Regions from separate parts of the Homo sapiens genome. Here regions 2, 3, 4, 5 and 6 are each linked to region 1. The links come from fine-mapping of genetic effects on gene expression. A gene starts in region 1. Each other region holds a variant in brackets. All regions are shown on one strand. Distances are between the middles of the regions.

What was found. PIP is the estimated chance that this variant, and not a neighbour inherited with it, causes the effect.
Region 2: its variant is the best candidate, but not a certain one, in a credible set for the expression of ZMAT4 in left ventricle (GTEx, PIP 0.60).
Region 3: its variant is the best candidate, but not a certain one, in a credible set for the expression of ZMAT4 in whole blood (TOPMed, PIP 0.74).
Region 4: its variant is the best candidate, but not a certain one, in a credible set for the expression of ZMAT4 in whole blood (TOPMed, PIP 0.66).
Region 5: its variant is the best candidate, but not a certain one, in a credible set for the expression of ZMAT4 in whole blood (TOPMed, PIP 0.71).
Region 6: its variant is the best candidate, but not a certain one, in a credible set for the expression of ZMAT4 in whole blood (Lepik 2017, PIP 0.55).

Annotation. Positions count from the first base shown.
Region 1 is chr8:40,894,968-40,900,003 of GRCh38, forward strand. ZMAT4 (zinc finger matrin-type 4) reads right to left here and starts at 2,859. Exons shown (of 7, transcript NM_024645.3): 1 at 2,716-2,859.
Region 2 is chr8:40,743,969-40,749,004 of GRCh38, forward strand. The region is part of intron 3 of ZMAT4 (zinc finger matrin-type 4); the gene reads right to left. Among named protein-coding and RNA genes, the nearest start is that of ZMAT4, 150 kb to the right of the region's middle. The variant A/C (reference allele first, on the strand shown) is at 1,948.
Region 3 is chr8:40,732,054-40,737,089 of GRCh38, forward strand. The region is part of intron 3 of ZMAT4 (zinc finger matrin-type 4); the gene reads right to left. Among named protein-coding and RNA genes, the nearest start is that of ZMAT4, 160 kb to the right of the region's middle. RefSeq lists an enhancer at 2,391-3,590. The variant G/T (reference allele first, on the strand shown) is at 2,397.
Region 4 is chr8:40,787,109-40,792,144 of GRCh38, forward strand. All of the region lies in intron 2 of ZMAT4 (zinc finger matrin-type 4), which reads right to left. Among named protein-coding and RNA genes, the nearest start is that of ZMAT4, 110 kb to the right of the region's middle. The variant G/A (reference allele first, on the strand shown) is at 2,007.
Region 5 is chr8:40,760,281-40,765,316 of GRCh38, forward strand. All of the region lies in intron 3 of ZMAT4 (zinc finger matrin-type 4), which reads right to left. Among named protein-coding and RNA genes, the nearest start is that of ZMAT4, 140 kb to the right of the region's middle. The variant C/T (reference allele first, on the strand shown) is at 2,529.
Region 6 is chr8:40,715,057-40,720,092 of GRCh38, forward strand. The region is part of intron 3 of ZMAT4 (zinc finger matrin-type 4); the gene reads right to left. Among named protein-coding and RNA genes, the nearest start is that of ZMAT4, 180 kb to the right of the region's middle. The variant G/A (reference allele first, on the strand shown) is at 2,420.

The DNA of each region.
Region 1 (5,036 bases):
AAAATGACAAGATCAAAGTAGGTTGGCAAAAGATTACTTACTGATATGTTTATGATGAAAAGGGATAACAGAAGGATGACAGGGATGGAGGGACAGAGGGGTAAGGAGAGGACTTTTATTTGCCAGGTAACTCACGCAGGGCTTGGAAAAGCAGAAAGACACAACCCCTTCCCACCATAGTGGTTAAAAGAGAGAGAGATCCAGTTTGGCCAATTGGGAAGAGGAGAAAACGCTGGGTCTGTGGATAGTGCTTATCCAGGGTCCTGGCCAAAGCCATCATGTTTGATGAAATGACAAGTAACACATTTAATTTCCTAGGCATTCATCGGTCCTTGCATACACAAACAGGCACGCAGCTTCACAAGGAGTTAATTAGCCTAACACCAGCAATTAGATTCTCCAAACTGGATCGCAGCAGAGGCGCTGGGTCCTGGGTTTCACACCTCACCCCATCCAAGGTGAAGCTGTAATGAGGGTGTTTTGCACTTTGTCAATTATTTTTCAGCTCCTAGGATCCTTTTTTGGTCTAAAGTTGTTATTTTAATGATCTCTGTTCCGAATGGGGAAATACAAGAAAGAGGATTGAGGAGGAGGCAGAGGGAAGGAAAGCGAGCGCTCCAGCGTGTCCCACTTGTACTTTCCAAGGCCCCCTCCGCCCCCTCCCCCCACACTGCCTCTTCCCTCTGTGCATGACTCACCCTTCAGGAGCTGTTTCAAATGCCTTACTTTTAATGTTTCCTATCACGATAGAAATCCAACAGATTGGCATCAATTAAAGGGAACCCCCAGTTTTGCAATCCTCAAACTCAAAAGCATTTTCTGGTTTCCTTACTGCCTTCATGAAAACCAAGGTGCTCTCATGCAAGATCCCCCACGTGCTGGGGGCTGCCCCTCCTGGGCTCCCTGGGGGTCACGTGCCCTGGAGAGGCCACAGAGGACGACGTCCATGACTAACCATGCCCACCGGCTGGGAAAAGTTCAGCTTCCGCTCCAGGCCCCCCAAACACAAAAAGATTATAATTGGCAGGGCTGCAAAATTGTTTTGTTTACTGTCAGATAGGAAGTACAGAAGAGAACGCTGATGGTATTTTGACACCCCCCCCAAAAAAAAAGTGGGCAGGCATTTTTTTAACCATTGTGAATAGAGTTTCAATAATCACAGTTCCCACCCAAAATAGCTGCCTACAGGAGGTGGAGGAGAATCTGTTGTGGTGGTTAAAGAAAATAAGAATTAAAAAGTGGAAGGGATTTGTGGAGCTGGAGAATCAAGACTGTCATCTGCATCTCCGTGGAAGGGTGCCCTGAGGAAGAGGTGTCACTGGAGAATCCCTCCCAGAACATGCAGTCTTGTCAGGACTGGGAATCGAACTCCCCAGCTGCGGGTTTAACGGAAATCAGAGGGATGAAAATCATCTAAACTCTTCAATGCCCCTAGGACTTGGAAGATCACCCCCAGACTATCAGCTTCAGAGTATCCCGCAGGTAGGCAGCGCAACTGGTGAAGTGCGGTGGGCACACAAGCAGAAGCTGCCTTCGCAGAAGAGGAAGAAAGTTCGAGACCAAGCACATCGCCTGCTTCCCCATGGGTCCCTGCTTCCTAGTGACTCACCTACCTAATATCTCCCTTTAGCAGAAGCCAAAGGCGGAGGAGGCAGGGGGAGAAAGGAGTTTCCCAAGGGTCTCAGAGCAAGAGAGGCCCCTGAGGTCTCGCGATTTAGAATGCTCAAGGGTGCTTCTGGGCTGAACCAGCTGCCTGCCGGGGTGAGCTGTTTTACTTCAAGAGCAGTTAGCAGAAGCAGTGTGGATGGTGACTTCAGCACCACCTCTGCCACAAATGCACCTGTGCACCAAAACAACCTGCGCACCTACACGGAGCCACCCCCTCCACCAGCCTCCACCTCCCAGAGCTGCGGGGATGCTCCGGGCCAGGCACCCCTTCTGGGGACAAGGGTGTAAGCTTCACATGGTACCAAACCGAACTCTCTATCCCGTTTTTTGGCTTTTTCTTTTTTTTTTTTTTTCAGGATACCCCAAGCCTGGAAAGTCTTCCAGAGTTTTCGGGAGCTAATTAATTATGTGATTTCCTCTCCTCTGAGAACTGTTTTGCTGGCGTGTCACCAAGTTGTCACGTAGGTGCCCACCAGGTCAAACAGAATAGACCATCCTCACCCACCCACCCCGGGGAATGTCTCCTTCCACCAAATAAAATGAACTGAGACAGGCAGGAAGGAGGCAGAAGTTTGAGGAAGGACTCCAGTTGAAGGTCACAATAGTTTGGGGAAGGCAGATCAAGGTAATACGAAGGGGACAGACCCTATAGCGGAAAACACAAACAACCAATCACGTTTCTCTCGGAACCAGCCTATCCATGATGGGTGCACCAGGAAACAGCACACCCTGGGATCCAACTTCTTTCACCCAGCACACCCGAATCTCCACCCCAGCCCTGCAGACACCCTAGCCTGAGACCAGACCTATTTAGACAGACCTGAGCGCAGCTAATTAGGAGTAGTAAACAAGCCCATTTCTTGCCAGCGCAGAAGTTTCCCAAATTGTCCGCTTGTTTTCCTCCCAACAAAAGACAGTGATTTCCCACCTTTATCACATTCCCTCCCAGAAACTTTTCTTTCTGCAATCCCTCCACCTAGGCTAAACTGCAAAGCCACTGGCAATGGAGACGCAGGCGCTGCACCCCCGGGACGCAGGCAGAGGTACCTTTTCCGCGAGGCAGAGGGGCCGCCGGTGCCCAGAGGCCAGCTGCCCTGCCGAGCAGTAGAGCGAAGCTGTGGGCTGGAGCACGCTGAGGATTACACGTTCCTGTCTCTGCGACCAGACCTTTCGGCAGCTCGGACCAACTGTGCTAGCGATGCACTTAGCAATTATCTGCTGGCTCCGACGCCCCGCCCTCTGCTCTTGCGATTGGCTCTCCAGTCCCGGGCAGGACTGCATTGGTTTCAGCCGACCTCACTCATTGCTTTGGCTCCTACTATTATCTAAGCCATCAAAGGAAATAATTCCATGTTTCATTGACAACCTGTAAGGCTCTCCTCCAGCCCAATGTGGGGGCAGGACCGGGAGGCCAGTGGAGAGAGGGGAGAGGAGTAGGAAAATGTGGGGGAGCGGGGTGGGGGAAGGAGGTGGAGGGGAGAGGAAAAGAAGGAGAAACTGTGGGGGGGTAGGAGGGTAGGAGGGAGAGAGAGAGAGAGATGGAGCTATCAAGCAATCAGATTCTTGCTCTAGCATTTTAACTTCCACAAAACAGAGCCCATAGCAACAATTTTCTGGCTTTATTTTCCCCCTAACTGGTAAATGTTGCTGAGGGCAGAGAGAATAATAACTATGGGGTGTCTGCCGGCATGAGACAGACTCTAGAAAGCCGAGCAAGGTTGAGGGCTGAAGGGATGGAGTAATGCTTTTCACAGGGCCACCCTGGAGGACATGTGAAGGACATGGCAGATTGCTTGGGGAGCATAGTAGGTGCATACCTGGAGTTTATCTATCAGTACTTTATCTCACAGTCCCCCTCATCCCCCAACCTGAGGAGACAATTTTCCTTTGCACCCTGTCCAAAGAGTCTCAGAAGAGCTATTCTTAAAATCCATAAAACTCTGGAGTTTCTCACTGTTCTCACTGGGAGGTCCAGAAAGCCGAGCATTCTAGAGTGAATGATTCTGCTGGGACCCTCACTTTGGTTTATTCTGACATGGCTTAAATTAATCGCTTAGACTTTCATCAACAACCTACGCACGTGAAGAGAGAACATACCCATCAAAGGGTGGGGACAGCTTAAACACTTTTCCTTGTTCACCAAGAAATCATAAAGTCTCACCCTAGTTAAAATGGCTTTTATCCAAAAGACAGGCAATAACAAATGCTGGCAAGGATGTGAAGAAAAGAGAATGAACCCTCCTACATTGCTGGTGAGAATGTGAATTAATGCAGCCACTATGGAGAACAGTATTGGGGTTTGTCAGAAAACTAAATATAGAGCTACCATCTGATCCAGCAATCCCACTGCTAGGTATATACCCCCAAAAAAGAAATCAGTATCTTGAAGAGATTCCTGCACTGCCATGTTTATTGCAGCTCTGTTCACAATAGACAAGATCTGGAAGCAATGTAAGTGTCCATCAACAGATAAATTAGATGAAGAAAATGTGGTACATATGCGTAGTGGAGTACTATTCAGCCATAAAAAGGAATGAGATCCTGTCATTTACAACACCATGGATGGAACTGGAGGACATTCTGTTAAATGAAATAAAACAGGCATGGAAAGACAAACTTCACATGTTTTCATTCATTTGTGAGAGCTAAAAATTAAAACAATTGAACTCATGGACAGAGAGAATAGAATGATGGTTACCAGAGGCTAGGAAGGGGCGGGGGTGGAATGGTTACTAGGTACAAAAATAGAGTTAGATAGAATGAATAGGATCTGGTATTTGACAGCACAACAGGGTTATTACAGTCAGCAAAACATATTGTACATTTTAAAATAACTGAAAGAGTACAATTGGATTGTTTGTAACAAAAGGAAATGCTAAATGCTTGAGGTGCCAGATACCCCATTTACCCTAATGTGATTATTACACATTGCATGCCTGTATCAAAATATCTCGTGTACCCCATAAATATATACACCCACTATGTTCCCATAAAATTAAAAATTTTTAAAAATTAAGAAGAAATCATAAAGCACAAATTTTGACCTTCCCCTCTCCTTAATGTATTTGTCACCATATGGAAAAGACATCACTTGGCAGCTAAATTTTCTTAACTAGGTAAAATATTTATTATTAATGTTTCTAAAATGAAAGAGCTTTTATAAATCAATAAGTACAAGACCTATAACCCAATTCAAAAATGGCAAAGGACAAAATGGGCTGAATTTTTTAAGAGAGAATTATAAAAGCGTCTTTTAAAGAAAGCTTTTAAAATATCAAATTTCAGATGATCCAGAAACTAACCCTTCAGCCTTCTTATCCTAGGATCTCCATGTCTTTGGTGAGGCTCTGGTCCCAGTCCTGCCCTGG
Region 2 (5,036 bases), 150 kb before region 1:
AAGGGTGAACAGCTTTGAAAAAATATGGCTAGAATGAATGCTCCCAGGAGCAAGGAGTATCAGGTTTGACATGATTATGGTTCACCTCAGTGAATGCCCAGCACTGAGCCCAGAAAGATAGAGACTAGAATGAGATAACACAGGCCTGTGAAGGGCCTCTTTATGACAAGTCCCCTCCGTGGGACCTTGGATTCTCCAACCCTACCTGTTAAGATGTTTCTTCCTCCTGGGAAGCAGAAGAGACTGCTTCACAGATCATGACTACTGTCTTGGATTCTTAATCCAGATGAATCCAGGGAGTCCGTGTCCCTAGCCAGCAGAAGTCAAAGGCCAGTCTGCTCCTGCTAGGGGTGAAGATGGGGTAGGGAGATGGAGCCGAGGCCAGGTGGCAAGACACATCTGCAGGTGTCCAGCTGGCTTAGTCATCACGCTGGCTTCCTTTTATATTTCTAGAAAATATTAGGAACACCCTGCTCTTCAGCATCTTAAATAAGGGCATCTTAAATAAATATTAAGAAATGTGATAATATTTACCCAAGGGCTCACCATTTCTGTCCTAAGCAAAAGAATACATCAAGCTGAAGCCTTCACTCCACTTCCAGCACCCTCCTCACTGCAGCCTCCTGGAGCTGCTCAGCCGTAACCCACAGAGTTCCTCCCCATTGAATGATTAAGCAACACCCACCCCAGGTATTAGGTTCTTTTGGGTAGTTTGAGACTTGCATCTTCACAAAGAGGCATAAAATGATAGACCCCCACCTTCGGCTAGGAATGAAGAAAGAGTAAAATGTTTTAGCTGGTCTCTTCTCTTGCTATCCTGCAATTTTCAACTAATGTCAAACAAAAATAACAAGTAAGGCAGGCAAGCTCTAGTTCGGCAGCCCTTAGAAGGACAATAGGTGCTTTGAGAAATTTAGGCTTTAGGAGAAAATGCACCAGCAAAGATGTATAGAGAGGATGGGCCCAAGTTCAGATCCTTACATAAGAAAGGCAATTCTGTTAGCACAATTTCTAGGCTGAATAGAAGAAAACAGACTTGGAACAAGGGTCAGGAGGCAGAGGCATGAAGCCAAGGGGGAGTTGATAAAAGCGTGATCTCACTCTGAAACCACAGGAAGGGACAAAGATGAAGCCAGCAGTGGCAGGCAGGGCCGACTCACAGCATCCGGATGTGGTGAGCTAGCAGGTCAAATATAATTCAATCGTTTCTAGCCTGGGTGAAGGGAAGAAGGGAAGAAGTTGGTGTTATTAATCAAATTCTAAAAGGAAATTTAAAAGAGGAAGCAGGTTTGGAGAGAAAGGAAAGATAAGTCCTCTGAGGTGTGATTACTCTAGACTGAAAGCACCCCAAAGTCTACAATTGTGTGACCCTAGGGTTCTATTTCGAAGGTATTTAAAAGCAAACTACAAGCAAGTAATTCAAGTAAAAGAGGCAGGTTCAGAACATCCTCCCCACACTCAGAAAACTGCATTTTCCAGAACAGAGACAGTTTTATTGTTGTTTCAGGTGTAGTTCTCTGAGCAAAACAATAGACTTAGGCTTATCAATCCTTTACACCTTAGTATAAATGAGTTTACAAGGTCCTTTCCCAAGCCAAGGATCTGGAAATAGGGTGAAGATCCTGTTAGAAATTCAAGCACGATGGCTCTGAGAGAGAATAAGTGCCGAAAGAGGACGGCAGATGGCACATTCCTTAACTTAGGACAATGTTCAGAGCCAGATCTGCCAGGCAATATTCCCCCATTTCCAGCCAGAGGATGGATTTCTCCTACGCCTATCTCTAAGATCATCAAAATCACTGTGAAGGTAAGAAAATAGGGACATTTGGTGTTTTATATTGCTCATCACTCAATTCCTCTCTTGAGGAAACAAAAATGGTCCACTCAATATATATGTTATTGAACATACAGTAATAAAATGCACATGATTTTTATTTCATCCTCTAG[A/C]ACTAATTTGTTAGTACTCAGCTAAGCATCCCTTAGCTTCCCTGACACAACACACTCCTAGTTTTCCTCCTACCTGCCTGTTTCTTCCAGATCTCCTTGGTGGTCTCACCATCTTCGCAGCCAGTAGGTTTCCCGGCTCACTTTTCTTCTCTCCTCAAGCTTTCTTGGTAGACGTTCTCAACTGCAGAGCTCACACACAAATTTAACTCTTCCACCCAAATCTCTCCTCTGAGCTCCGCAGAGGAACTGCCACTCCTGGTTAACATCTCTTTCTTTCTTCCCACCTTCCTTCCCTCCTTCCCTCCTTCCCTCCCTCCCTCCCTCCCTCCCTCCCTCCCTCCCTCCCTCCCTTCCTTCCTTTCTTTCTTTCTTTTCTTTCTTTCTCCCTTCCTTTCCTTTCCTTTCCTTTCCTTTCCTTTCCTTTCCTTTCCTTTCCTTCCCTTTCTTTCCTTTCTTTCTCTTTTTTTTTTGACAGTCTCGCTCTCTTGCCGAGGCTGGAGTGCAATGGCGCAATCTCAACTCACTGCAACCTCTGCCTCCTGGGTTCAAGCAATTCTCCTGCCTCAGCTTCCCAAGTAGTTAGGACTATAAGCGCATATCACCACACCCAGTTAATTTTTGTATTTTTAGTAGAGACAGGTTTCACCATGCTGGCCAGGCTGGTCTCAAACTCCTGACCTCTGCCCACCTTGGCCTCCCAAAGTGCTGGGATTACAGGCATGAGCCACCATGCCCGGCCCAGTTTTACTACTAATAGTGCCCTTTCACTTTTAGAAGTGTCATGTTTGGATGATAAATGATATTGTCACTCCTTCCCTAAAAACCGCACATGGTCTGGCTCCTACCATATTGGTCATGCTAGCCTTTTCTATGACGACATCCTGCTTTGTTCTGCACTAGCCTCACTTGCCTTCTTTCCGTTTCTCCCCAAACTTTCATAATGCTGTCCCTCTTCCTGGAATGCTCTTCCTTAACCTTCTTACCCAGTAAAAGCCTGTGCACCCTTCAGATGCCACTCAGAATCACTGCTGCAGAAAAATTCCCTCATTCCGAGGCTGGTGATCTCTCCCCACGTGCTCTCCCAGGGACCGTGACCCTTCATCCATAGCACTTATGAGAGCTGCCACTTTCAATGGAGGGCAGGGACCCTTCCCGGCTGTGCTCACTACTTATGCTATGCCAGAATACGCACGAAACTTGGATTAATGGTTTATAAAAATGGATAATGATTTCATGATAAAATAAAAGAATTACTTGAAATTATCAACAATCCACTGATCCGTTTGGTTTATTAAATCATGGTATTGGTTTCCAAGGAGCTTTTAAATCACATGCTATTAAAATTAGAAAGGAACAATTGATCATTTATTGCAGAGGAGGAAATAATGCAGGGAAGTTACATGACTCGCCCATGATCTCCCAGCCTTTCTGGAAGTCCAAGTGAAATGCACACAGGAGTATAGATTTCTATTTTATTTCTAGGTGGCAAGACTCCATTGAAAAGCCATATAAACCCTTCCAGGCTCAGATATTCCTTGGTTATGATTCGGTTTTACTTTTCCCTCGATAGCACTCTATTTCTTCCCTTTCTCCCTCCCTTCTTTCTCTTTCCCCTTTTTTTTGCATCATCAGCCATGATAGCAGAAAACTCATGCCCAGGAGTATGTCATAAAGCATACAGAAAAAAAAACAACACATAAAAATGCAAAGTATGTATGGTAAGAGAGGTGGGAGGAGGGACACACTGAAGATCCCTAATTCTTGGTGTTCAAGACATTGCAGGCCACAATTCCATCTTGAATTTTTTCATCCCCCATTACAGTAAGGGATATAATAGATAATGAGAGACCAAACAAACTAATTTGTTAATTCTAGGATGTGACATCATGACCATTCATTTCTGGGGTTGCTAATGCCAACCAGTGACCTTCTAGGATTACATACAGATGAAATGTGAAGAGGAAATTTAATAAGAAAAGGTCAATCATCACTCAATGTACCAATGAAACAAGATTTTTTTCTTTTACAATAAAATATCAAAAATTTTAAACGACCAACATTGTGTCTTATGATACATACTCAGTGCTTATAGACAAAGCTATAATGACTATCTAAAATTATATGGAGGATAATATTTGCTGAGCTCTGGAGTATTTAAAGTCATAAACACTCTTTTAAAGGTCAGCTGTAAAACCGAGATAATAACTTTGAAGGAAAATGCCTTTTTCCATCAGGAATTCACAATAAAAATAATCTTTTCCACATGATTTTTCTTTTAACTATGCTTGGCACAAAGACAAAACTAATAGATGAATTATACGTGATTACAAAACTATTTTGCTATACGGAGTCACAGATCAAAAGGAATGGTTCCTGTTGCAGGCAGGTAATGGCCTTGTACCATGTTCAGTCACATATGCTGCTGTAGAGCATTTCAATGGGGCTTTGAGAATGACATGCTCAAATAGCTGCATTTTTAATATCTATTAAAGTCACTGTGCCATGACTGAATAACACCACCCATAAGCAGAAAGGAGGGGAATACAACCAGCTGCTCCATGCACACAGTTCAGGGCTGTGTGTGCTGTCATCTAGAGCTGTTCAAAATATCTTAACTCTCTTCTGGCTAGACTTAAATATTGGGGCTGGATCACAGCCAAGTAATGACAAGTTGTGTTCCTCCAAGCAAAGCCCCAATGTGCAAATGCCAACACCATATTTTTTTACTCTTTGTATTCGTTTAGCTTCTTTAAAACAAGAATGGTATTGAACACAGTAATATTTTCTCTCTGTTTTTCTAATTCATTGACAATTACTTAGGGCTTTTATTTTTTTTTAAGAAATGCATCTCTAAGCAGAACTTGATCTTGGAATACAGACCCACTAGCTCATTCTAATCAGTCTTTTTTTGTTGATTTCTCTTACTCCCTATCAGATATGGTTTGGTTGTGTCCCCATCTAAATCTCAACTTGAACTGTGGCTCCCACAATTCCCATGCATTGTGGGAGGGACCCAGTGGGAGATAATAATTATGGAGGCTGTTTCCCCAGTGCTGTTCTTGTGGAAGCGCATAAGTCTCATGAGATCT
Region 3 (5,036 bases), 160 kb before region 1:
GGCTGGGAGGAGGGGAATCAGGGAGGTATTGTTTAATGGGTATAGAGTTTCATTTTTATCAGATGGAGAGAGTTCTAGAGACAGACAGTGATGATGTTTGCACAACACTGTGAATGTATTTAATACCAATGAACTGTATGCTTAAAATGCCTAAGACGGTAAATTTTATGTATACATGTTTTACCCCAATTTTTAAAAATTGGGAAAAAAAGAAAAAAAGACAAAGGGACCTTAGAAGAGTGCCTACAACGGGAAGGTCAGACCCTGCAGCAGGTACTGGCAGGCAGTCAGCTCCAGCAAGAAAGAGATGTCAGCCTAGGCACACACTTGGCACCAGACAGAGCTGGAGCCAGCACAATGAGGTGCCAGGGCCTGCAGCCTTAGGAACCCAAGTAGAAAAGAGGCATCTGGCATCTGTACAGTTGGGCAGCAGTGAGCAGGGCCCAAGCCATTGGGCTGGATTCATATCCAGGACTCTTCTCCCTGGTAGGAACAGGCACCTGCTCCAGAGTGGCAGCTAAATTACCAAGATGCCACAGGGGCAGAGGAGGAAGGACAGTCTATAGCTATCCAAAATATCCACAGGTCCATGAGGGCAGGATAAGCCTTGGAGCAAGCATGACTGATACTGGTGTCCAACGTTATGGGGTAGGCCTTCATCATCTCTTCCCAAAAAGGCCCTGAGGCCTGGATGCCCCAGTGGCCTCAACTGTGGGAAGAAGAAAAAGGCAGACACTGGGAACCAGGGACATCTGGCAGACCTGGGCTGAGCAAGACCTCCTTTTTTTTTTTTTTTTTTTTTTTTTTTTGAGTTGGGGGTTTAGCACTGTTGCTCAGGCTGGAATGCAGTGGCATGATCATAGCTTACTGCATCTTCGAACTCCTGGGCTCAAGCGACCCTCTCACCTCACCCTGCCAAGTAGCTGGGTTGACAGGCACAGGCCACCACACCAAGCTAATTTTTAATTTTCATTATCTTAGAGGTCTTGCTATGTTGCCCAGGCTGGTCTTGAAATCCTGGCCTCAAGCAATCCTGCCTCCTGAGTAGCTGGGCTTACAAGCAAAACCCAACATGTTTGGCTGACCTCCATACTTTTAACTTAAAAATCTGAGCACAGTTAAAGGGAGCTGACATCCTTTTTTAAGAGCCCTGAATTCATCTTTGCAAGCAGACAATTATCGCAGGGGGTTCAGTGACTAGAACAGACCCATTCTTGGTCTTTCATTAAGTTTGTCATTGTCTTTGCAAAAATCAAAAATCTGGTATATTTCATTTCCAAGCTTAAAATGCCTTGAAACTCTATTATGTTCTACATTTTAAAAAGTCAGAGAGAGGGTAACTGCATCTAATTTGCAATGCATGCCTAGTCACAATGTTAACTCACAGGACTTGTGTTAATATTATTATATACTTCAAAGTGAATCTTGTGTATTCTACAGAATTAACTAGAGTTGTTTGGGGGCCTGTTAACAAGTTGCTGAAATGCAGAAGCTTTTGGATTTGTTGAGCAGTCATAGCCTATTACAAGTTGTGTCAAGACAATTTCAGGGACAGGCCAACGAGAATCGCTGTTCTTGGTGGAGCCTTAGGCACTGCTTTCAGATTTCATTAAGAATGACATATGCAGGGATTTCAGATAACTATTATAGGTGGGATCCAGTTTAAGAAATACTGGTTGTGAAAGGCAGCCTTAGAACAGGTCTAAATTAGCAGGAATGAAGAGTTTTCTATTACTCAACAACTCTCGTTCATTCATTCAACAAATGTTTCCTGAGCCTTGCCATGAATCCCCATGGTATTCCAGGAATACTCTGAGTAAGACACATCCTTGCCCTGAAGGTGCTGACACCTTGGAGGTAGATATTAATAATTAGCTACATCCAGAAGTGATCTGTAAAAACAAGATACTATGTACACTAAAATGGTGGAGACACTATTTCCAGCAAGAAATTCAAGGAGAGTTCCACAAGGAAGGTAGTTCCTAGGTAAGACTCAAAGATAGCAGGATTTTAACCATTAGTGGTTGCAAGTAGGAAAGATGAACAATGCTTAACAGAATGAGGATAGCAAGCTACAAGGAATGCGCTGGACATGGCAGTTATTTCTCAATAGGCACACGTTTGGCATTTTAGATGGGACTAGTCTTACTTACGAAATATTGCTCTCCAAATTTCAGGACATTTGGCATGGCTGGCCTCTCCTGCTAAGTACCTGTAACACCCCACTGCAACAATAAAAAACACCCTGGCACATTATTAAATGGCACTTAAGAGGAGTTACAAGCCCCAGTTTTAAGATGCAGTGTGTGAAATATGTAATGTATCATCGGCACCTGCGTGTGAACCACAATTGACTTCGTGAGACTTTACAAAATAAAAGAAAACAAAGTCTGGAA[G/T]ATTTGGGTGTAAATTTAGACGATTTCCTTGTGAAGAGACTGCCCTGTGCCCTAGGTGAAAGATTCTGGAGATGGAAAAGTACAACCGAGCGGAGAGAGAGAGAGTAGAAGTAGCCTGTCGGCATGCTCTAACATTCTGGAAGACTCTGGTAATCACCCGTCTCTCATTAGAAAACATTCCCCAGTCTGTTCTCCCAACTCTCTGTAGAAACCATCTCCAGGTTTAAAATGAATGTCAAAGGGAAAGTAGGAGTCACCTTACATTTAACAGCAACTATTCCAGAACACCACCATCCCATAATATGACTTAAGGCTGTTTTCAAGGTTACTGGAGGCCAATCTTGAAAATCTCCTAAAGAAAAAATTATATGATTGGAATTGTCCAAAATTTAAAAAAATCTCTAAAGACATTAATACAGAAATTAAATATTTTGCAATAATGCCCTCTTGCTTGAAATAAAATAAAATTAGAATCTACTGGGACCTAAAGATTACAGAGCCTGTTGAGTTTGCTGTTTGCTATTTCAGACTCTTTGTTGTGGGAACGCCTATGTCTAGATGACTAAAATGGCTGGTGTGAGACACAGCTGACTCAGCTTTTTACTGACTGAGCATGTGACAGTTTGAATTGCCCACCAAATCTGATGCTCTAGGCAGAAACTCTGCCTTATCATTGCTCAGAACTCCAAATTTAATATATAAAATCAAAACAGTCAACTTGTATAAATGAAGCAATAAGGAGGAATCTTTGGTGGTAATACATCTGCAAAGTAAGACATGAGATACCCATTACTTAAGCACAGTGCTTAGCATATATTTGGAGTTTAATAAGTATTTGTTGAATAAAGGAATAAAAGACATGACTTTAGTCACATAGGAAATTTAAATTATATTATACTCAATATTTTCTCTTTATAGGACAAGACAATGTTCTATACGTTTTGTAAGGATTTCCATCCTTATAAAAAGAGCACTATTCAGTTTTTGTGCTCATAGAGTCATAGTCAGTTATCTGAAAAACATACTTACTTAGAATAGTCCATTTTCAGACAGTGCCAGATTTTTTTAAAAGCATTACTAAAATAAAGGATATGAGTTAGAAACTGGATCTAAAAAATATTTGAGAGCTGGTTTCAGGAATTTAACCCATCATAAAGCTTGAGGAAACAGGTTTTGTGTTATAGCCACTTTTTCAACTCTCCTCTCAGAAGGGACATTCCTATAGCTGGCAATCACAATTTGCTAAGCATGGTGTTCAGTGTATTCAATAGTCTCTGTAAAGCAGTGAGTTCAGTGTCTCACTATTAAGACACTGTAAACAAAGACATATGGACGTTTAACCGCAGGACCCATCACAACACTCAGAGTCCCAGAACAGCATGTCTGGATGGGCGCTCGGGAAGCATCTTCCTTTTCCAGAGAAAGAAAGAGGCACGGGGAGTGGGAGTGACTTGTCCCAGGGCACACAGTAAATTGGTAGCTGAGATGAAGCTGGAAATTAGATCTTTCAAATTCAGTCTTCTTAGAAGCTAAGAATCCAAGATGGATTATTTAGGAATGCAGATAAGACAAGTAAATGTCTCAGTAGATGCAGTAATGCCACAGTGCAGAGCGGGAGAAACACTGTATAAAGTCAACCAATGCTATTCAGACCTACAGCCCATCAGTGGGGATCAGGAAGACTCTGACCAACCTCACCTTATCTCCTAGGAATCTTTCAACCACAATAGCCTCAGGAACATGGAGAAGGACTGAGTCCAGGCAAACACATCAAGCTGGTAAAAATGATGACAACTCCTCTAACCTTTCCTGACTGCTGCAAACAGCTCACCAGGAAAATGTACAGGAGGTGGAGGAGGGACCCTGTTGGCCACATTATACCAATATCAAGGAACAAATGTCAGTCAGGCAATGGCAGATATTACCCAGAACTCTTGCTTTCCTGGAATGCTATTTTTACATCTTTCAGCAGTAAGGTCTAGCTCACAGTCTCAAGTGGCATCTCATGATTCTCATTCATTCAGTGAATATTTACAGAACACCCACTATAAGAAAAGTACCATATAAGCACTTGGAGGTACAAAATGAAGAGGCATCATGGCTGCCCAGAAGGCACACAGAGCCCAACTAAAGAAAGCAGAAAAACCAGTCACCAAAATTCTTGGAAGCATTGCACAAATACATAACAAAAGGAGTTAAGGGAGGCAGTCCACAAGAATAAGGAGTGATTGGAGGTAATAGTATGAGCAGAGGAAGGCTCGTGAAGTAATGGGTTTTGCAATTGAGAACAGTCCTCTGGCAGTCTGTGAGGATGGGCAGGAGTGAAGCAAAGCAGGATGTGAAAACCAGTGAGGGACGGGTGGAAGAAAGAGATGAGGGGCTAAGCAGCTAACAACAGAGACGAGGTACTCATGGACTGAAAATAGGGGTAAAAGTGAGATAGACTCCAGCCTAGCTGACTGGGCAGGCTTCATTGACCAAGATTGGAAATACAGGGAATAGAGGTAGCTCTGACTGGACATAAGCAGTGCCTAAGCAACTTCCAGATGGAAAGATCTATAAAGCATTTGGGCACAGAGGTCCAGAAGTAAGCAGGAGGTCTGAAGGTCAACAGGCTGGGTGGTGATTGAAGCCACTGCA
Region 4 (5,036 bases), 110 kb before region 1:
CGTATTCATTATATGGAGACTTTGAAATGCCATCCCAAATTTACAGCACTAAATGCTTATAATAGAAAAGAAGAAAGATCTGAAATCAATGACCTCAGCTTGCACCTTATAAAACTAGAAAAAGAACAGTACGGCAGTCTTCTTTTATAGAATAGGTTCCCAGACCCGCAGTGGGTGCCTGAAACTACAGATAGTGCCAATCCCCATCGCTGTCAATCAGAACATGTTCTGTCCATGTCATCCATCAATAAATTTAATGCCTTTCCATCTTAACTAAGCACTTATCACACACTGTGGTCATAACTTTTGTAGTTTGAAATGAGACAGCAAAAGTAACACAAATTTCTTTTTCTTCACAATTTCATGGATGGAAGATTTATTCTTGTGTAAATCTTAGCAACCTCAGCATACAATTTTTGTCCTTATTAAGTTGAGAACTTTCATGTTTTCACTTAAAGGAAACACTTTACAGCTTCTCTTTGGCATATCTGAGTTGCCAGCAACACTACTTTTGTGCTTTGGAGCCATTATTAAGTCAAGTAAGGGTGACTTGGACACAAGCATGGTGAGGCCTCATTAGTGGATCTGACAACCCGTGTGGTCTACAAGTGTGACTCACAGGCAGAGAGCACCCACAGTGCAGAGACACTGGGCAAAGGGAGGATTCACAGCCAGGGCGGGATGAACCTGGATGGTGTGAGGTTTCATGTGCTGCTCAGGAAAGAATGCAACTTAAACCTTATGAATTGTTCATTTCTAGAATTTTCCTTGTAATGTTTTCAGACCATGGTTGGCTGAGGGTAATTGAAACTGTGGAAAGCAAAACTATGGATAAGGAGGACTACTATAAATTAATCCTCATGAAAGCAGAAGAAAGGAAAAAATATAAGTATTATAGTGGAAATCAAGAAAACAAAAATAGAAATACAAAAGAGAAAATCAATGAAAGCAAAAGCTGGTTGTCTGAGATCAGTAAAACTGATAAATCTCTACTCAGACCAATGGGGAAACAAATAGAGAAAAGACACTAATCATGAATATCAGGAATGAGAGATAAAAAAACATGACTCCTTCTACATATATTAAAATAATAATCAGGTAATATTATAAATGACTCTGCCAATTAATTCTACAACTTAGATGAAATGAGCAAATTACCTGAAAAAACAAACTACCAAAGCTTAAGAATAAATAGGCTGGGCACGGTGGCTCACGCCTGTAATCCCAGCATTTTGGGAGGCCGGGGCAGGCGGATCACGAGGTCAGGAGATCGAGATCATCCTGGCTAACATGGCGAAACCCTGTCTCTACTAAAAAATACCAAAAATTAGCCGGGCGTGGTGGCGGGTGCCTGTAGTCCCAGCTACTCGGGAGGCTGAGGCAGAAGAATGGCGTGAACCCAGTAGGCAGAGCTTGCAGTGAGCTGAGATTGCACCACTGCACAATCTCAGCTGGGTGACAGAAATTAAATTTGTGGTTAAAATCTTTTCACAAAGGAAACATCACATTTGGATGGTTTCACTAAGAAATTCTACCAAACATTAACAAAAAAAACACCAATTGTACACCAACTCTTCCCAAAATTGAAAAAGAGGGAATACTTTCCAACTCATTCTGATGCCAGTATTATTCTGATATCAAAAACAAGGACATTACAAGGAAAAAAAAAAACACAAACTGATATCATTCATGAACATAGATATAAGAATTCTTAACAAATTTTTAGCAAATCAAATATAAGGACATATACAATGAATAATACATCATGACCAAAGGATATTTGTCCCAGGAATCCAAGGTAGATTTAACATTTAAAAATCAATTAATAGAATTTATCATACCTACAGAAAGAGAGAGAGGAAGGGAGGGAGGGAGGGAGGAAGGGAGGGAGGGAGGAAGGAAAAGAGGAAGGGAGGGAGGGAGGGAAGGAAGGAAGGAGAAGGGAAGGGAAGGGAAGGGAGGGAAGGGAGTGAGGGAGGGAGGAGAGAGGGAAGGCGAAGAAGGGA[G/A]AAGAAAATTCACATCAACATTGCAACTGTGGAATAGATGCCAAAAAAAAAGGGTGTGAGAAACTCAAACATAAATTGATTTAAAAAGGAAAACTTTCAGCAAACTAGGAATAGCAGGAAACTTCCTCACCCCTGTAAAAGGCACCTATGAAAACTTACGGCTAGCGTTGTACTTAATGGTGAAAGACTGAATGTTTTTTCCAAGATGAATTAGGCAAACGTGTCTACTGTCACCCTTTCTATATGCAATATTGTACTGGGAAGTTCTAGCCAGCATGATAAGGCAAGAAAAAGAAATTCAGTGCATCAAAATTGCAAAATGAAAGACTGAATATGCAAATGGACAATGGTCAGACCATATATAAAAACAAAAATTAGATAACACAACAGGGTGACTAGAGTCAATAATAATTTATTATACATTTTAAAATAACTAGGAGAGTATAATTGGACTGTTTGTAACACAAAGAAAAGACAAATTCATGAGGGGATGAAGACCCCATTTACCCTGATGTAATTACTATGCATTGTATACCTGTATCAAAATATCTCATGTACCCCATAAATATACATACCTACTGTGTACCCACAAAAATTAAAAATTAAAAACAAATAGTACTCTGACCCACAAACTGTAGCAATCAGCCTGGGAAGCCAACCTACTATCTGCAGTAATGAGTCCAGGAAGGCAAACTACTGTGTAGCAGACAGCCCATAAAGCCAAACAATAACTCCTGTAGCAATCAGCACAGAACAGCCAGAATATAATGAGTAATTGACAGCTTTTCTCATATTGCTCCCACTTCCAACTTAGAACCAACTGGAAAAAAAGCCAAATATCCACCCCAAACCAGTCATGTACACTGCCCCACTTCTAGTTAACCCACCTAAAGCTTCCCCATGCCAATACCTCCAGTCAAGGCATACATGATTCCCTCTCTTTTCCACCATGAAGCTTCCCCACTCCCCTGCCTGCCTTTGAGTCTCTGTTAAACACAAATGATTGTGGCTGACTCTCTTGCTATAGCAAGCTCTGAATAAATACGCTTTGTTTGTTTTCATTTGGATGGTCTTCATTTATTTCCACAAAATAAAGAAAAAAAACTGTTTTTATTCTTAAACAACATGATTGTAGCAGTAGAAAATACAGAATCTATTTTAAAAGCTTCTAGATCTAATTGGTAGGCTAACAATGGTTTTAAAAGCTTCTAGATCTAATCAATAGGTTAGCAATGTTTCAGGATACAAGATTGATATCTAAAACCAATTGCATTGCTACATACTAGCAACACAAAATTAGAAATTGATATTTTTAAAAAGATGGATCTCATTCTGTCACCCAGAATGAATGCAGTGGTGTGATCATAGAGAATTTAAATTTTAAAGAATAACATTTATAATTTAATTGTTTAAATACCATTTATAATACTATCAGAAATATGAAATATTTGGGGATAAATCTGACAAAATATGTGCAAGACCTATACACTAAAAAATACAAAACATTGTTGAGAAAAATTGAAAACAAAAAAATTGAGAGATATATTAATACTATGGATTAAAGACTTGATATTGTTAAGATGTCAATTATCTGACAAGTTACTTACAGATTCCATGCAATTCCAATGAAAACCTCTGTAGCCATTTTTTGTAGAATTTGACAAACAGATTCTACAATGCATTTGAACATGCAAAGCACTTAGAATTGCCAAAACAACTGTGAAAGCAAAGAACAGAGATAGAGAACTTACACTACCTGCTTCAAGATTATCAAAAAGCTATGGTAATCAAGACAGTGTGGTATTACTATCAATATACACCAACAGATTAATGAAAACAGAACACAGTGGCCAGAAAGAGATTCACATTTATATGGTCAATTGATTTTGAAAAAGAAGCAAAGGTAATTCAATGGAGAAAGGCGGCTCTTTCCAATAAAAGATGCTGAAGCAACTGGATATCCATAAGCAAAAGAATTAACTTTGATCTATATCAGCACCATATTAAAAATTAACTCAAGATGGATTATAAATCTAACTGTGTAACCTAAAATAATAAAACTTCTAGAAAAAATATCCAGAACCCACTCAGGGAACAGATGTTCAGAAGGGACTGGAGGAGCATGGGATGGCATCCAGAGAGTGCAGGGGAGCACAGATGTGACCAGGTTCCAAAATCATGATGGAATAAGAGGTAACATGGAAGCGCTCCTAGGAGCTCCAAAGTACTTAAGCCTGGGAAATCCCGCTTCCAAAGCAGAGGGTTATAGTTTGAAAACAGATAACCACAGAAACTACACTGAGAGAGTAATGTACAATTTACAAAGTGATTTCATGTATACTATCAATAGCCCATCTCCTCTGATCCTCCAAAAACCCTAAGGCTCAGAGAGGCTGAGCAACCAGCCAAGGTCACACAGGTCCTTCGCCCTGGCTCATGGCTGAGTTGGGCCATCTTCTGCTCATGTAGTTCCCCACACCCACATCCAGCATTCTGCAATATAAGCTTGTTGAGGGCAGGGAATAGTCCGAATTGCTCACTGCTAGATCTCCAGAACTCAGAACATAGATTTTTTTAAATAATAGCTATTGACCAACTACGGACTCTAAGACCAGCACACTTTTCACTACACTGAGCAGCATATTCTGCCATGTTTTGTCTTAGCCTGAGAAATCGAAGCTCTCCCTTATAGCCCACAGACAAGGAAGCTATAGGAGGCCAGCCCTGTGCCCTGGTGTCCACTGGCTTGTCAATAAATTGGATAGCTATGAGCACCAGCTAACTTCATCAGGAGGGCCGCTGCACAGCAGAGGGGCCATAACTCCATGTCCGGGTGGGTTGCTTCAAAATCCACCAGTGTTGCTATCCACCCACAGCATGCAATGAGTTCACCTCTTTCTGGGATTAAAAAGACTAAAACTAGCTATGGGGTTGAAACTAGTCTGACTGGACTTTGAGGCAGAAAATACTTTTACATTAATTTTGTATTTCCTTACCTACAAAAAAATCCTATGTTTCACTTTCAATATT
Region 5 (5,036 bases), 130 kb before region 1:
TTCCATATATGATCAGTCCTTACCTAAGTGCTGATTTTTTTCTTTTATTTGACCCTTTGGAAACATCTGTAAGTTGGCATACACTTGCTTCTGCAAATCTTTCACCTGCCCTCAGGAACCGAGCCCCTCCTACTGGCCAACCCAGTCTCCATCCCTCCCCAAACATACCCCAGGCTCTAGCCCTGCTTCGCAGCACCCTCACCAGAACCAGATTGGGGGTAGGAGAGCTAAGCAGCATCTTGGGTCACCTAACTAAAAACAGTACAAAATCTGCAATGAAAGAAGTCAGAAAAAACAAAATTCCTGTTAAGCCAAGTTTCCACTCACTAACTCTGAATGGTTCTTGCTTCTGGCAAAGCTGACTTTTTTCATGGTCGAGGCAACATTCTGACCGCAAAGATCTCTCTCTCTCTCTCTCTGTCACAGTCTCTCTCTCTCTCTCTCTCTCTCTCTCTGTCATGCTCTCTCTCTCTCTGTCGCGGTCTCTCTCTCTTTCTCTCTCTCTCTCTCTCGTGCTTTTGCACCATGCACCTGCAAGTTGCACAGAGCTACAGCAGATTTTATCACCAACCTGGGGCTTGGCCAACGTAGAATTGACAGCTATGGTCAGCTACAATCCTGAACCCGATACTGCATGTGGTTTCCTAAAAATGAAGGATTTGTGTTACCTACATTATAAACCTTTAATTGTCCTCCCAAGAAATTGCTAGTTCGGAAATTAACAAAAGGAAGCTGAAGAAGAGAAAAGAAGGAAGAAAGAAAGGTGAGGGTGGGCTGGGGCAGTGGGGCAGGGGGGGATAATTTGCTATAACAAAAGGCAATAAAGGGAAATTTTAAACATATGTCATATAGTACTTCATAATTATATCCACAAACATAATCTCTATCTTGGCCAAATGTGTGTAACTATAGCTATCCACAAGAGATCCAATTCCAAACAAGTTTTAATGTTATAACTGGGTTATGGACTTGATTCCTTATTTTGAATATAAAACAACATATGTATTGCTAATTTTTCAAAGGGGCTTTCTAAATAAATATTGAATGAAAGTCAGTTTGAAGGGCCCCTGCAAGTCTCTGCCTAACCAGGTCTCCCACAGGCCTTCCTCATTGTTCCCTCTAAGGCTTTGCACAGCAGGCAGCTCCACCAAGAACAGGCGCCCCGTCATGGTACAAATCTTCCAGAGCCTTCTAAAGCTTTTGCCTTGGGGAAGCCATTGTTAAGCACTCCAGCTTCCATCAAAAAATCACTTCTCTGATCATCAACTTCATTAGAGGCAGGGCCACACAAATTAGCCCTTGATTGTTTTTAAATTGCTTTCTGTATGACTTTTCTCTCCAACTACCTGATGAACTCCATATTTCATTTTTTTCTGTGTCCTTTACAGCATGCGGCTCTGTACTCTGTACATAGTAGAAGCTCAGTAGAAATTGGCTGATTGATTAATTATGAAAGGGCCCATAGATCAGGAGATACTCCACAAGAAAGAAGAAAAAATTCCACGACAGAATACTTGACACACACTTTACAATTTATCATGCACCTTCACAAACATGACTTTATCTTGAGTCCCTTAACAACTCTGAGAGACAGTCAGGACAGCAATTATATTGCTTGATTATAACCATGGTAATTGAGTTTTAGAAAGTCTAAAGCAAAGTTGTGAAACTCATGCGTAGCAGAACTGGGGATAGAATCTCCACTTCTAACTCTCAGTGCTGGGTACTATTTAAGCTGGAAGCCAAACACACAGCACTTGTTGGTAAACGCATCTGTCTTTGAGAACTGACCACGAAGTCAACAGCAGACCACTTGAGAAGACAAGGGGACATTTGACAAAGTAAATGTCAACGTTACGCACAATGTCCCACCATCCCAACCTCGACTCCTGCCTCTGCCATAGTACTAAGTGAATAATGTCCCCCTCCAAATTCATATCAACCTAGGACATGCAATGTTATTTGGAAATGGGGTCTTGCACATGTACGTAGTTAAGAAGATGTCATGTTGGATTATATTGGGCCATAAATCCAGTTATTGGTGTCCTTATAAGAAGGAGAGAGAACACACAGAGATACACACAGAGAAGAAGGCCAGGTGTGGTGGTTCATGCCTGTAATACCAACACTTTGAGAAGCTGAGGTGGGAGGATCACTCAAAGCCAGGAGTTCAAGACCAACCAGGGAAACAGCAAGATCCCATCTCTACAAATTTTTTTTTTTAAATTAGCCAGGTATGGTGGTGCATGCCTGCAATCCCACCTACTTGGGAGGCTAAGTCTGGAGGATCCCTTGAGCCTGGGAGTTCGAGGCTGCAATGAGCTATAATCATGCCACTGCATTCCAGCCTGGGAAACAGAGCAAGACCCCATCTCTAAAAATAAAAAAAACAAAAATGAAAAGATAGAAGAGGCAGAGGTTTTTGTGGTACAGTTTCAAATCCAGCAACCACCAGCATCTATGAGATAGGCAAGGAAGAGGTTCTCAGTCAGACTTTCCAGAGGAAGGCCCTGCCCATGCCTCAATTT[C/T]ACACTTATAGCCACCAGAACTGCCAGAGAATAAATGCTCTTTGTTGAAGCCACCCAGTTTGTGGCAATTTGTTACAGCAGCCTTAGGTAGTCAACAGTGCTAGAACTTCATACTCAAGAAATGCCTCTGAGTTTGTTTCCCTGAAGACATTACCAATGCTGACTGCACACTCAAAAGGGCCTTTTCCCACTCTTTTTTATTTAGCTCACCCAAATCTATCCTTTAAGAAGTGGTTCAGTGTCACTTTCCCCAGGAAAACTTATCTAGCCCCATCGTATCAGGAGAGGCCAGGGACCCTTCACCATGCCCAGGCATATGTCTATGGTAGCACTTATCATGCTGCATTGAGATACAGGGTCTACACATCTGACTTCCCCACTAGATCCTGATCTGTGTTGGGGAAGGTGTCCATGTCCCCCAGCGCTTTGCAGATGCTCGTTATCGTCTTACGATGGGATGTTGTGGAGCTAGTTTACAGTATCAGAGTAGATCTCCTTTTGTTTTCTACTTTTCCAGCCATGTCTCTGTCAAGTACTAGCTGGGTGATCACAGTCAATTACTTAATCTCTCTGTTTGCTTCTCTGCTAAGTGGGGACAGTGACAACTCCTGCCTTCTCCAGGGCTTGTGAAGATGAAAGATCACTCATATATATAAAGCATTTAGAACACGTGTGGAAAGTGCATGATAAAAGCCAGCCACTATTTTTACCCTGCCCAGAACAACAATGCTCCCTGGCTCCAGACCCCATAACAGTTACAAGGCCAAAAAATAAGACACCACTTCAAGATATGTGGGAAAAGACTAGGAATAGCATTTAGGGAAGCAGGATTTTAATCTCAGGTCTGACCACTTTGGTCAAGTCATGGTACTTCTTTATTTTCACCTTTGTAATAAGAAGGGTTTAGATTAGATTGATTCTTCCCCATCTAGACTCTAGGATGTTTAGGGACTTGTAAAAGTGACACTCAGCTTCTCAAGCTATGCAGAATATTTCAGATCTGAAGGAAAGCATGTATATTAAGAGTAGTAACACTGATGACACTAACCAAATGCCAAGCTTCTCTATGTTTAGAGGGAATTATCTTAACCCCACATAAAAATACTGTTTACTTAAAACTGACTTGCGATTTTGGTCAGCAGTTACTTACATTTTGCAAAAATCAAAGTATCACACACACAAAAAAAAAACCCAGGTAAAACTAAATCACCTTTTTTACTTAAAAATGCTGTTTCCCATACAGATCATTTTTTCCCAAAGCATCTGACCCACGGGTCTGAAGATAATAAAAGGGTGAAAAACGGAGACTCTCAATGGACTGCGTGAACACTGAAGTCCTTTCTGTCTCTAACGCTGGAGGGATTACTGAAAATTTCTCTAAGGCAATTGACCATAACAATTTATTTCTCACTTAATTTTACTCTGTGGCCCCAAGGGAAAAATGTCTTCCAGGGGGAAAAAAAATGTAAGATCCGAGTAAGGATTCTAAAGATAAAAGCATGTGAAGAGAAAATTTAAACAGCTGACAATGTCAAAACAGAAGATAGAAATGAATTTGGGTGTTTAAAACAACAACAGCAAAAGCCAAATGGCCTGAAGTAGAAATGGCAACAATAGACCTTAGAAGTATAATAGGCCCTTCACTGCGTTTGTAAGTAAATTTCGAGTTCCTATGAATGGGGTGGGAGCAGGGTTCATACATGGTCAGGGTGTGGGAAATCAGGAACACATTTTCTCTGTTTACAAAGCCATACGCTGGGGGTATTCAGGGCAGATGTGAATGCTCTTCTCAATCAGTTAACACTGGGATGCAAACCTCTCACAGCCCCTGGGAGCACAGAATCTGAGTAGGAAGTGAGGTGAGTAGAATAAAGTGTTATTATATCCTTCTGAGAATACAGCGTGCTAGTGGAGAGAGTATCAGTAATAATAATACATGCAGAAAGTGCTTTGAAAACAAAATGCTAAATAAATATGACTTATGTCAGTTGGGCCTTATGAAAAATCTATACCTTCGATATTATTATTATTATTATTTTTAGAGACAGTGTCTCACTCTGTTGCCCAGACTGGAGTGCAGTGGCACAATCATAGCTCACTGCAGCCTCTGATTCCTAAACTCAAGCAATCCTCCAGCCTCAGCCTCCTGAGGAGCGGGGTCTATAGGTATGTACCACCATGCCTGGCTAATTAAAAAAAAAAAATTGTAGACACAGGGTCTCACTATCTTGTCCAAGCTGGTTTTGAACTCCTGGCCTTAAGTGTTCCTCTTGCCAGCATCCCAAAGTTCCGGGTTTACAGGTGTGAGCCACTGCACCCACTCACCCAGAACAGCAGTCATCCCTGGCCCCGGACCCAGCAATGGCTTCAATGCCCAAAAATAAGACACCATTTCTTATTCTCCAGACAACGTCTTTATATATTCAGTCTCTCAATTCTTAGGTATAAGCCTGTACAAAAGAAAGTTGATTCATATAATTACCAATATACACTCTTAAAGCCCCTGAG
Region 6 (5,036 bases), 180 kb before region 1:
AAAAAAAAGTGTGTGAAATGTTAAAGGGGTCCAAGAAGACCTCGCTATGGAAGGGACTTTTGAATAAAGGCCAGAAAGAAGTGAGGAACTGGGGAACAGCATTCGAAGTAGAAGGAACAGTGAGTAGAGAGGCCTTGAGCATGAGGTGAGCAGCATGTGCACAGATTAGCAAAGGAAACCAGCCAAACGAGAGGAGAGGGAGTAAGAGGCGATGAGCTCAGGCAGTGATGGGGAAATGATAACTACCAAACAGAGCCTTATAGCTGATTATAAAGACATAGCTGGTACCCAGAGTGAGAGGCAAAGCCATAAAGAGGCAACAACAGCCATGATCTACATAGTACCCAGAAAGATTTGCACATGTGTGAAAGAGCAAGAGTAGAAACAAAACCTGAAAGGCAAGCCTCTAAATATTAAAAAGGTGATATATATATACATCTGATTATGCAAAATTATTTTTTTCTTTGTCCTTTATGAATTGTCTAAACATTCCACAGTAGGTGATACTTTTTTACTTTTAAAAAAGAAATCAAATTTTGAAAAATAATTATTTAGAGTAAGTAAACCCCTCATCCCACAATTTTATAGGGTTAACAGATGAAAGGGGAGAGAGAGTGTGTGCTTTACGAGATAAGATCTCCTTTCGCTCTTTGGAAGGAAGCCCAGACATGCATGGGGCAGATCTACAGAGATGTCTCTAGTTGGCACTGCCACCAGCGTGGCCCACCTCACTAATCTGGGTCCCTTCGTTCAGCAGGTTCCCCTGTGGGTCCATTTACATGCCATGTGGACTTCCAAACAACCTGCAACCCTGACAACAGCCAGGCCCTCCAAGTCATGGAGAAAAACTGCTAAGGCATCAACACGAATGTTTTCTGCCCAAGCCTATAAGCGCCTGTGGTTTTATAACTTTATCACCCCAAGTGCTACCTCAGGTCCTCAGTTCTGTAGAGAAGCCAATCAGAGACAGACACTTGTCCTCCAATTTCCACTGCTATCTTTATCACTCAGCACAGAGGAAAAGAAAAGGATCAGACCTAAAGAAAAGATATAACTTTAATGGAGGGCTTTATAGGGGAAAAGATTTCAAATCTCAACTGTATTCATGATACGCAGAAAAGAAAGTCTGGATTCTCAAAATGTGGTACCCGGATTTGCAGCATCAGTGTCACCTGAGAGCTTGCTGGACATGCAAATGCCCAGGGCCCCTCGCCAGACCTGCTGCATCAGAAATATGGGGAGGGGATCAAGCCCTCGGAGAGAGTCAGCCCCATGCTAAAGAATGCCACAAATCCACTACAGGAGGTGTTTCCTTGGACCCTTCCTCCCTTTACTTAAGAGAGAGTCAGTTTGGGCCAGGCACAGTGGCTCATGCCTGTAATCCCAGCAATTTGGGAGGCCGAGGCAGGCAGATCACCTGAGGTCAGGAGTATGAGATCAGCCTGGCCAAGATGGCGAAACCCCATCTCTACTAAAAATACAAAAATTAGCTGGGTGTGGTGGTGCATGCCTGTAATTCCAGCTACTTGGGAGGCTGAGGCAGGAGAATCGCTTGAACCTGGGAGGTGGAGGTTGTGGTGAACTGAGATCGTGCCACTGCACACCAGCCTGGGCGACAGAACGAGACTGTCTCAAAAATAAATAAAAATAAATAAGAGAGAGTCAGTTTGATTAGGGTCCAAATGTCTCGCCCTCTAGCAGGAGATCTTCATTACTACTCTGTGCTCCACGGAGGTTTCTAAAAGCAAGTCTCCTTGAGATATCAACAAAGACCTAGGCCTTTTTACTTTGTTAGCTGGTCAGACTGAGCTGGAGCTTTGTCATTAGCAGTTTCTCCAGGAAGCCCATGGGTATCACGTGGACCTGCCTTTTCTCCTCCTGTTCCCTGGACGCTAGCATACCTATCATTGTGAAACTGTGTCACTGGAAAGTTAATCTCTCTGGATATAAAACTCTGTCCTCCTATGAAAAGTTCTGAGCACTTGATTTTAACAAGGAGAAGAGCTGAAACATGTTGTATCTCGTCTATAATCCTGTAATTTTATCTTTGATTGCTCAGTAATACCATCTTTTCCCAGTAGGGTGAAGTCATCCTTTTGCTTATCAAACCTTGCACACAATGAAGGTCCTTAAGTCCCAATTTGAAGGACCCAGATGGAAAGTATTCTGAGATTTCCACTCACCATTTAATAAGTAGTTGGTCTCTGATACAGATTGTACAAAAAGGTCAAAACAAATCACATATTTATTAGCTTTTCTGTGTTAGTTCCATCAAGAAATATCTTCTAATATAAAATACTCAAAATAAAGCATTCAGGCAGGGTACAGTGGCTCACGCCTGTAATCCCAGCACTTTGGGAGGTCCAGGCAGGAGGATTGCTTGAGGCCAGGAGTTTGAGACCAGCCTTGGCAACACAGT[G/A]ATACTCCATCTCTACAAAATAAGAATAAAAAATAACTAGCCAGGTGTGGTGGTGCATGCCTCTAGTCCCAGCTACTGGGTAGGCTGAGGCAAGAGGATCCCTTGAGCCCAGGAGTTCAAGGCTGCTGTGAGCTGTAATTATACCACTGCACTCCAGCCTGGGTGACAGAGCAAGACTCTGTCTCTAAAAAGCAAACAAAAAAATTAATTTAAAATCATAAATAAATAAAAACAAAATAAAGCATTCAGTAAAAATGTATATTTCTTGAAAAAATACATAAACTTAAAACTTCAAAGAATCTGTCAATAGGAACCTACTTTACTAAAGTTATGGTGACTCTGGATGGTGTTTCTTTTTATTTTTAATAAATTTTTAATTATGAATAATTTTAAATTTGCAGAAAGTACAGTAAGTTCCCACATACTGTTGTTCTCTGTTTCCCCTCCTGTTAACATCTTACATAACTGTGATACATTCATCAAAACTGAGAAATTAACTTTGATAGCTTACTATTAACAAAACTCCAGACTTTATACAGATTTCACTAGTTTTTCCACTCATGTTCTTTTTCTGTTTCAGGATCCAATCCAGGATACCACACTGCATTTAGCATTTTGTTTTTCAGTTCTCTTTTACTTCTTCCTGCCAACTTCTGGATTAGAACCTCGTATAGATAGCCACTTATAAATAGCTGTTAATTAACCAACACAGCATCCTGCACTTCATAACTGGTAGCAATTCTGCCCAAAAATAAAGCAATCCACAGGGCAGTGACCAGTCTGCGTCAGCAGTGTCACCAGCCTGCCATGGAGGTTAGGCTAGCTCTACTCAGACCCCAGCATCCTCTTAGGTAGGCCTGGGTTAGAGGAGGAAATCTGCTTTGGGCCCAAATGAACTGGACAATCTAGCCAAGCTTACTGATCCCATCCTTGAAGATAGAAGTAAGCCAGTTTGTTCTGTGGGAAACTCCTTATAACAATACTTGCAGGATGACTGGAGTGTCAAATGATTTAGGAAACTGCAATTATGATTTTTTTTTAAATTTCCAGTTTATTCAAAGGCAACAGTAGAAAGAAAGTCTGGGCAAAGGTGGAGGAAAAACATAAATCACCCATGACCCTTGGGTAGGATTCTCTGGAGAACAGCTACTGCACAATTACCTGCTCACCCAGCCTCCTTCTTCTTTCCCTCATCCAGTTCGTCTCCATGACAGTGACAGAGACACACACAGAGAGAAAAGCAAGCAAAAAAATTTGTAGCACAAAGTAAAATGTGCAAACAGCCCATCTAAACCATAGTTCTCATGCCTGCTCTATAGATAAGAGTTCTGGGGGCACAAGATAATGACTTCCAAAGTGGAAGCAATTATCTCTCATACTCTTGTGGATTCAAGTTCCAATTTCTGATGACATTCTTCCTCTAAATTTCTGACATATATACACTTTCCAAGGTTCCCCTGTGGCACTGACCTGGAATCCCAGGAATCCTTAGAAATGAGAGGAAACTAAATGATCAAGTCCAATTCTTGGAGGCAACTTCAAAATACTGCTCACTCAGATGAGAACCGGATGGGGCCTAGAAATCAGCCTGAGGGCTCCCTTTAAATGCATTACCCCAAACTGATGTTTTCTTCTCTCTCTTTTGGTAATTAAGAAGTTGACATATGAGTTGTTAAGACTTTGAGGCCAGGTGTGATGACTCATACCTGTAACCCCAGCACTTTGGGAGGCTGAGACGGCGAATTATGAGGTCAGGAGTTCAAGACCAGCCTGGCCAACATAGTAAAACCCTGTCTCTACTAAAAATACACAAAAAAATTACCCAGGCGTGGTGGCAGGTGCCTGTAGTCCCAGCTACTTGGGGGCTGAGGCAAGATAATTGCTTGAACCTTGGGGTCGGAGGTTGCAGTGAGCTGAGATCGTGCCATCCAACCTGGGTGTCACGCAAGATTCTGTCTCAAAACATAAATAAATAAATGAATAAATAAATAAATAAAATACTTTAATGAAGGTAAATTAGAGAAAGCAGGGAGAAATATTCAGCAACAGTGACTGACAGGCAGCGAGTTCGTGGAGAAGGCACTCAAGGCCCTTTTTTTGTTTTTTGTTTTTTGTTTTTTTTGAGACGGAGTCACCCAGGCTGGAGTGCAGTGGTGCAATCTCAACTCACTGCAACCTCCGCCTCCTGGGTTCAAGTGATTCTCGTGCCTCAGGCTACAGAGTAGCAGGGACTACAGGTGTCCACCACCACACCCTGCTAATTTTTGTATTTTTTAGTAGAGATGAGGTTTTGCCATGTTGGACAGGCTGGTCTTGAACTCCTGATCTCAGGTGATCTGCCCCCCCTCAGCCTCCCAAAGTGCTGGGATTACAGGCATGAGCCACCATGCCCAGCCCATTCAAAGCCTTTTAATGTGCTTGCTCTCCCTGGAGGCAAAGGGCACAGACCCCACACTCCTCAGCAGCCCATGCTTCTCCAAGGTGAGTCCTGTCTGGATGTTAAGATCTGTAGACAATTCCACCATGCCCTCTGCAGTAGGACCCAGTGACCATCTACTTCTCTGCCTCCCATGAACCTAGGTCAACAATGGACTTGCCTCTCCCTAATTGCAAAGTA